2 linked regions of the Homo sapiens genome follow. The protein of the gene in region 2 purifies or fractionates together with the protein of the main gene of each other region. This does not show direct contact. Each region holds a gene or a part of one and is shown on either strand. Other genes may lie near its edges.

The links. The genes of interacting proteins can lie anywhere in the genome.
Region 1: the proteins of SH2D3C (region 2) and UBE4A purify together in Homo sapiens (affinity purification with mass spectrometry; one large-scale study listed by BioGRID and IntAct). This does not show direct contact.

What each region holds. Positions count from the first base shown.
Region 1 is NC_000011.10:118,390,600-118,394,099, forward strand, and holds part of UBE4A (ubiquitin conjugation factor E4 A), read left to right. Parts: intron 1-57; coding exon 58-205; intron 206-2,138; coding exon 2,139-2,296; intron 2,297-3,500.
Region 2 is NC_000009.12:127,751,167-127,754,666, forward strand, and holds part of SH2D3C (SH2 domain-containing protein 3C), read right to left. Parts: intron 135-3,500; coding exon 6-134; intron 1-5. UniProt on the Homo sapiens protein: Acts as an adapter protein that mediates cell signaling pathways involved in cellular functions such as cell adhesion and migration, tissue organization, and the regulation of the immune response.

The DNA.
Region 1 (3,500 bases), on a different chromosome or scaffold from region 2:
TCTCTTCCATTGACCAACCCTCTGGTGATCAGTTTTTTTCTGATGCTAATGTTCCAGGGATGAGGAGAATTTCTGTGCCACTGTGCCCAAGGATGGACGTTCCTATTCCCCAACTCTCTTTGCACAGACAGTTCGAGTCTTGAAGAAAATAAATAAGCCTGGGAATATGATTATGGCTTTCAGCAACTTGGCAGAGAGAATCAAGGTGAGGAAGAGGAGGAATTGTTTGCTGATTTCATTAAGAACCACGTTGTCAGCCAGGCATGATGGCTCAAGCCTGTAGTCCCAGCTACTTAAGAGCCTAAGGCTAGAGGATCACTTAAGCCCAGGAGTTTGAAGCTGCAGTGTGCTATGATCATGCCTGTGGATAGCCACTACACTCCAGCCTTGGCAAGATAGCAAGACCCCATCTCCTAAAAATCCATGCAAAAAAAATCAGATTGTCACCTCAGCTGTGCTGATTTTTACTCTATTTCAGGGAGAAAAAGAGCATTACCAAGAGAAAATATAAACAGATGGTTCTTTTTGGACAGTCACTTAGAACTACAATATTCTTAGTTTTATTCTTGTCAACATGAGAGTGAGAATAGAAATTTAAGAAATCGGCTGGGTACAGTAGTGGCTCATGCTTGTAATCCCAGCATTTTGGGAAGCCAGGGTGGGCAGATCACTTGAGGTCAGGAGTTCAACACCAGCCTGGCCAGCATGGTGAAACCCTGTCTCTACTAAAAATACAAAAATTAGCTGGGTGTGGTGGCAGGCGCCTGTAATCCCAGCTACTCGGGAGGCTGAGGCAGGAGAATCGCTTGAACCTGGGAGGCGGAGGTTGCAGTGATCGCAACCACTGCACTCCAGCCTGGGCAACAGAGCGAGATTCCATCTCAAAAAAAAAAAAAGAAAAAAGAAATTTAAGGGCCAGGCGCGGTGGCTCACGCCTGTAATCCTAGCACTTTGGGAGGTCGAGGCGGGCAGATCACAAGGTCAGGAGATAGCGACCATCCTGGCTAACACGGTGAAACCCCATCTCTACTAAAAATACAAAAAATTAGCCGGGCGTGGTGGCAGGCACCTGTAGTCCCAGCTACTCAGGAGACTGAGGCAGGAGAATGGCGTGAACCCAGGAAGCAGAGCTTGCAGTGAGCCAAGATAGTGCCACTGCACTCCCGCCTGGGCAAAAGAGCGAGACTCCATCTCAAAAAAGAAAAAAAAAAAAATTTAAGAAACCTCAACTAGAAGAGAAGAATGTGCACATTTATGTAAGATGTTTTTATGAAAACGTTTATGCACAGTGTTACCAATAGATTTTAAAAGCTAGGGTGTTAATGCAGAATAACTTTTTAGAAAAAAAAAAAGATGAGTAGTTTTCAGTCATTAATTTTTATTTGGATTGTCTCTATGTTTGTAGTTGGTAGTTGGCTTTTATTGGAATATGCATACATTTTAAAGATTAAAATACTATATTGTATTTAGCTAAATCCCTTTGGTTAGAGTATGACAGAGCTCTATTAGCAGGTAAGAAGAAGGAAGATCATGGCACAAAAGTCTAATAGAAAACCTTCCTTATTGCTGTCAGTCTTCCCTCTATTGAGTTTCTTTTTTATTGAGTTGGACTTCATCTTTGTTTAGAGCTTAGCCAGGTGGATCCCTGAGGAACTCAAGTTGTGAAGGAATTAAATGTCAAAATGACTTTAAAATTCCTATACCTGTTTGTATCAAAAATCAAAAACTGCTTTTCATACGCAGGCTGCATGAGTGACTCTAATTATGCAAATAATACCCTCCTCCATTCTCCCTTCTCCATCCACTTTTGAATTATGGCATTTACAACAGAACTGTTGCCAGATGGATGTTATATCTGATGTATTTCTTTTCCTCCTAACATTTAAACCCATTTCCAGTATGACTGCCAGCAGCTGAGCCAACCTAAAGGTCCAGAGTTGGGGCTCAATGCTTAATTTGTTCTTAGAATATCTTGGCTTGTTTTTGAGAAAATGAAGCTCACGTGTGTCACTGTCACTGTCAAGGGTTATTAATGACCTGTTTTTTTATTTTTGAGATGGAGTCTTGCTCTGTCATTGAGCACGCTGAATTCAGCTACACTGTGAATTCACTTTAACTACCAGATGTTGTATACTCAGTCTCTTGCAGACCTCCAACAACAGGAAGAGGAAACCTATGCAGATGCCTGTGATGAGTTCCTGGATCCCATTATGAGCACACTGATGTGTGACCCTGTGGTGCTGCCATCTTCCAGAGTCACTGTGGATAGATCCACCATTGCAAGACATTTGCTCAGGTAGGCCAGTCCCAAAAACAGACTCAAGAGCATATATATATATTAGTTTGCTATCTTTTTCTCCCAGGCACCTAAGACAGTACTTTGCACCCAACACATACCACATATTATTGATTTACTGATATGTTGGAAGACATTTTGGTTTCAATTGCTAGGATATAAACATTTCAAAACAAAACATTCTGTTGAGAAATGCTAACTCTAACCTCACCTCTTCCTGCCTTAAGAAAATAATTTCTGGCCGGGTGCAGTGGCTCATGCCTGTAATCCCAGCACTTTGGGAGGCCGAGGCAGGTGGATCACTTGAGGTCAGGAGTTTGAGACCAGCCTGGCCAACATGGTAAAACCCCGTCTCTACTAAAATACAAAAAATTAGAGGGGCATGGTGGTGCGCACATGTAGTCTGAGCTACTCAGGAGGCTGAGGCAGAAGAATTGCTTGAACCCAGGAGGCAGAGGTTGCAATGAGCCGAGATCGCACCACTGCACTCCAGCCTGGGCTCAGGTGATCCTCCTACCTCAGCCTCTGGAGTAACTGGGACTACAGGCATGCACTAACACGCCCAACTAATTTTTGTATTTTTTGTAGAGACAGGGTTTCACCATGTTGCCCAGGCTGGTCTTGAACTCCTGGGTTCAAGCGATCCAACCGCCTCAGCCTCCCAAAGTACTGGGATTACGGGTGTGAGCCACTGTGCCTGGCCTGTTTTTTTATTTTTGCGACAGAGTCTCGCTCTGTCACCAAGGCTAGAGTGCAGTGGCGCGATCTCAGCTCACTGCAAGCTCCGCCTCCCAGGATCAAGTGATTCTTCAGCCTCAGCCTCCCGAATAGCTGAGACTACAGGTGAGCACCACCACATCTGGCTAATTTTTGTATTTGTAATAGAGATGAGGTTTCACCATATTGGCCAGGCTGGTCTTAAACTCCTGATTTCAAGTGATCCTCCCACCTCAGCCTCCCAAAGTGCTGGGATTATAGGCATGAGCCACCTCACCCAGCCTGCTTTTTCTAATTCAGGTTTTACACTATATTCACCATGTGGATTAACTCACGTTCTGTTGCTGTTGTTGTATCAGCTGTGGTAACCATGAACTTTCCCCAGCCTGCCTATTCTTCGGACAGTCTGCCCCATTATAACTATAGAAAAGACAGGAATGAAGCAATAAATGGTAGCTTATTAGCTGCTTAATGGGCCCCTTAACTT
Region 2 (3,500 bases):
CTCACCTCTCGGGGGATGCGGCCATGGTACCAGGCATGGCTGCGGAGATCCGTGCTGCTGAGTTTGAGCTCCTCCTCCAATTCCTTGTGGAGTTTCTCTGGCGATGAGTCCAGGATGTACTTCTCCTTGGAGAACTGGGTAGAAAACAGCAAGAGTTGGCATCCAACTTAAAGTCTCCTTCTTCTTTCCCTCCCAACTTCATTCTACCATGGATGAACTCCTCCTATCCTGGGACTCTGGGAACACTAAGGCACAGGTGCCAGACCCTTTCCCATGGGTCCCAGAAAGAGTAAAGAAATCTCAATTCCTTCCACAAAACAATGCCAGCTGCATTCCAGGCCCTGTGCTATATGCCAGGGGTGGATGCAGTGATATATAAACCAAGCCCGGCCCTCAAGGCAGTGCCTAGTCTGAGGAGAGGCAAAAGCAACAGGAGCCTCTGAGTAGAGTGCGGTCAGCACCACAGCGCTGGACAGCGGCAAAGAGCCGGGTGGCTTTTACAAGCGGGATTAAGCCTGGGCACGACAGAGGGGTCTCGGAAGCCTTCCTGGAGGAGATGGCAGTAAGAAAACACTCATTATATACCAAGGGCACCAAACTGTTCTTGAAGTGTTGGAGGGGGATTTCTACAGGTGAATCTTGGAGGTAAGGCAGCAGGTAACTGCAGGAAAAGCTATGAACAAAACCACAGAACTGGTTGGACAAGGATACGTTCTGGGATGGTGCATTCTACAATGCAAGGGTGGGGAAGGGACTATAAACAGGGACACGGGGACCCCAAACAGACATCTGCATTGCCCCTTACAATTTCCAAGGCCATTTCTCCCTTGAAATCCTCAGCAATCCTCACCCAGATGGGGAGACCATGGCCCAGCAGGGAAGCCCAAGGCCACTGAGGGAGATAATGTCCAGTACTCCACCCTCCCACCTGGCCCAGAAACTCCTGGTTTCTTGATTACTGTGGCCTGAAGTTGGAGGCTGATGGATCCCAGGGGCCCTAAGGGAAGAGGAAAGGAAGCCCTTAATGCCAGGTGTACGCCCACCAGAGCCCAGCCCAATCCTGGCTGTGCCTTGTGAGCTCTCTGGGCCTCAATTTCTTCCTCATTAAAATGGGTACAGTGACAGAACCTGCCTCACCTCACTGCGAAGATGAAAAGAGACAGCACTCCAGAGTACTACTAGCACATGGACATCCTCATCACTGCGAGGACATGGGATGGTTCTTCCTCTCCTTCCCCCACCTCCAGGCCCCAAAGATGGCTACTCCAAGACAGACAGACCCCAGCGCTGGCCAGAAGGCAGGACAGATGAGGGAGGGCAGTAAAGGGCCTTCATCCCAGGTGAGTCTCTCCCTGGGGCCCCTCGCTCCTGAGAGTCCGAAGGTCCTCCAGTCCACTCCCTGCCTCCTCAGACTATCCACAGATCTCGCCTCCTAATTCTGTGGCTACATCCCTCACCCCTCTGCTCCCATACTGCCTGGGTTTAGCCTAGTCTGCATTGCTCCCAAGACACCATGATTCCCAGTGTCAGAGATATCTAGAATCTCTGATTCCATTCAACATTGACTAGGTCCCTATCCTGGTCCTGTGCCAGGGCTGAGGACCCAAGGTGGCCTCTGCCCTGGGGGAGGCCTTGCAGACACTGACAATCAATTCCAGGTTTCCTGAATGTCCCGAGATGCACAGAGATGGTGCACCACCAAACTAGTCAGGGGGCAGAGTCAGGAATCACTTCCCTGAAAAGGTGGTGTTTCTGCTGAGGTCTGAAGGACTGGGTGAGCCAAGCAAAAGCACCAGGGTGGAGAGGGCAGGTGGACAGGTGGACAGGGAAGAGCTTCTGGGGAGAGAGCGGCAAAGTCAGGGTCCTACGGGCAGAGCCAAGGGGAGGGAGGGGAGATGAATAAGAAGCTTCCAAGGGGCTGTGGGGGCAGGGGCAGGTGTGGCACGGCTGCCTCAGGGAGCTGGGGTTTATCTGGAGGCCACAGCAGAGCCATGGAGGGGTTTGGAAGTGTTGGGGCAGGTTTAGTCCACTTATGGAGAGCAGCCTAGGGTTTTCCAGGCAGTGGCAGGGCAGATAAGGCGTGGGCAGAAGGAGTGGGGGAAAGGGAGTTTAGATGGCCATTGATTCATGTGGGGGAGCAGGGCGGAGGGGTCAGAGAGGACTCCTGGCCGAGATCCTAGAAGGATGATTGGGACATGCTCTGAGTGGGCAAGGCTGGGGCAGGAGCAGCTTGGTGGTGGACCCATGAAAATTTGGACCTTGAGGAGCCTGCAGGGCTCTGGGGACAGATGGTGGGAGTGGGCGGTTTGCACAGGTGCTCAGGAGAAAGGCGGGGCCTGGGAGTGGGAATTCTGCACATCCTCCGGCCGTGGTAGAAACCGATGCCCCCGAAGGGCAGAGAGGCCCAGGGCTGGGCTAGGATCTGGGCCTTCTCAGACACCTACACTTCTCCAAGGGGTCCCCTACTTCTGGGGGTCCCTGGTCTCTCTCCCTCTCACTCTGCGGTGCTCACACCAGGCTAGTCCTCTTTCCTCATATCACACCAAACCCTGGAAAGGGGAGAGTGGGCGTCACAGGGAAAAAGGGAACCAAGACCTCAGCCTTCTGGCGTCCTCCTTGACAAAGGGCATGCGATTGAGACCTTCCCCCAGTTCCACAGCTGGAGCTAGAGGGACGTGGGCAAAGGAGGGAGGAGGCTGGATGTTGAAGAACCGCCCCAAGGCTGCCACTGTGTGACCTTGAGCCAGTCACTTCCCCTCTCTGGGCCTGGGCAGCCTCATCCGTTAAAGGGGCTGGGAGACTGGGCTCCCCTTTTCCAGCTTAATCACTGGTCACGGAGAGTTTGGGGGGACCAACTTGGTCCTCCCACACACCTGAGGGTGAGGAATCCTAGGGTCCCTGTGCCTTGATCTCACCTCGACCTGGGAGCCCCCAGTTCCCTAGAGTTGGGGGTGCTGGGGTGCGAATGCAGCATCCCTGCGCTCGGCGCCCTGCTATTGGCCAGAGATGATCTCACCGCCTCCCGGCCTGCGCGCGCCTGATTGGCCGGTGCGGGGATGCTGCGCTCCGCCGCCGGCGGGGCAGTCCTTCAGGCGGGCTCCGCGAGCGTGTGTGAGCCTGGGGGAGCGAAGAGCCGACGCGCCTGGCATCTCCCAGGGGGCTCAGGGGGCAGGAGCGCGGAGACCCCCGGACAGGGTCTTAACCCCTTCCCGCCAGCCCGAGCCCAGCATCCCCTCCAGCTCCCCTCGGCGTCCCAACCCCAAGCAAAGCCATCCCCAAAGGATGCTCCGCAGAGAGGCGGGGTCCGGGTCCTCCCCTCCACCCCCTTCCGTTTAACCCTCTCACCGCCGCGGCGCCGTCCTGCACTGCCCGGCCAGCTGGGCTGGGAGAGACCCGCGCCCCAGGCATGTCCAAGCCCACCTAGAGGGCGGGAGGGTGGCGGGCGCTCTGGCCCCAACCCTGGCATCCGAAGCATCCCCCGCGTTTCCTGCTCCTCACTC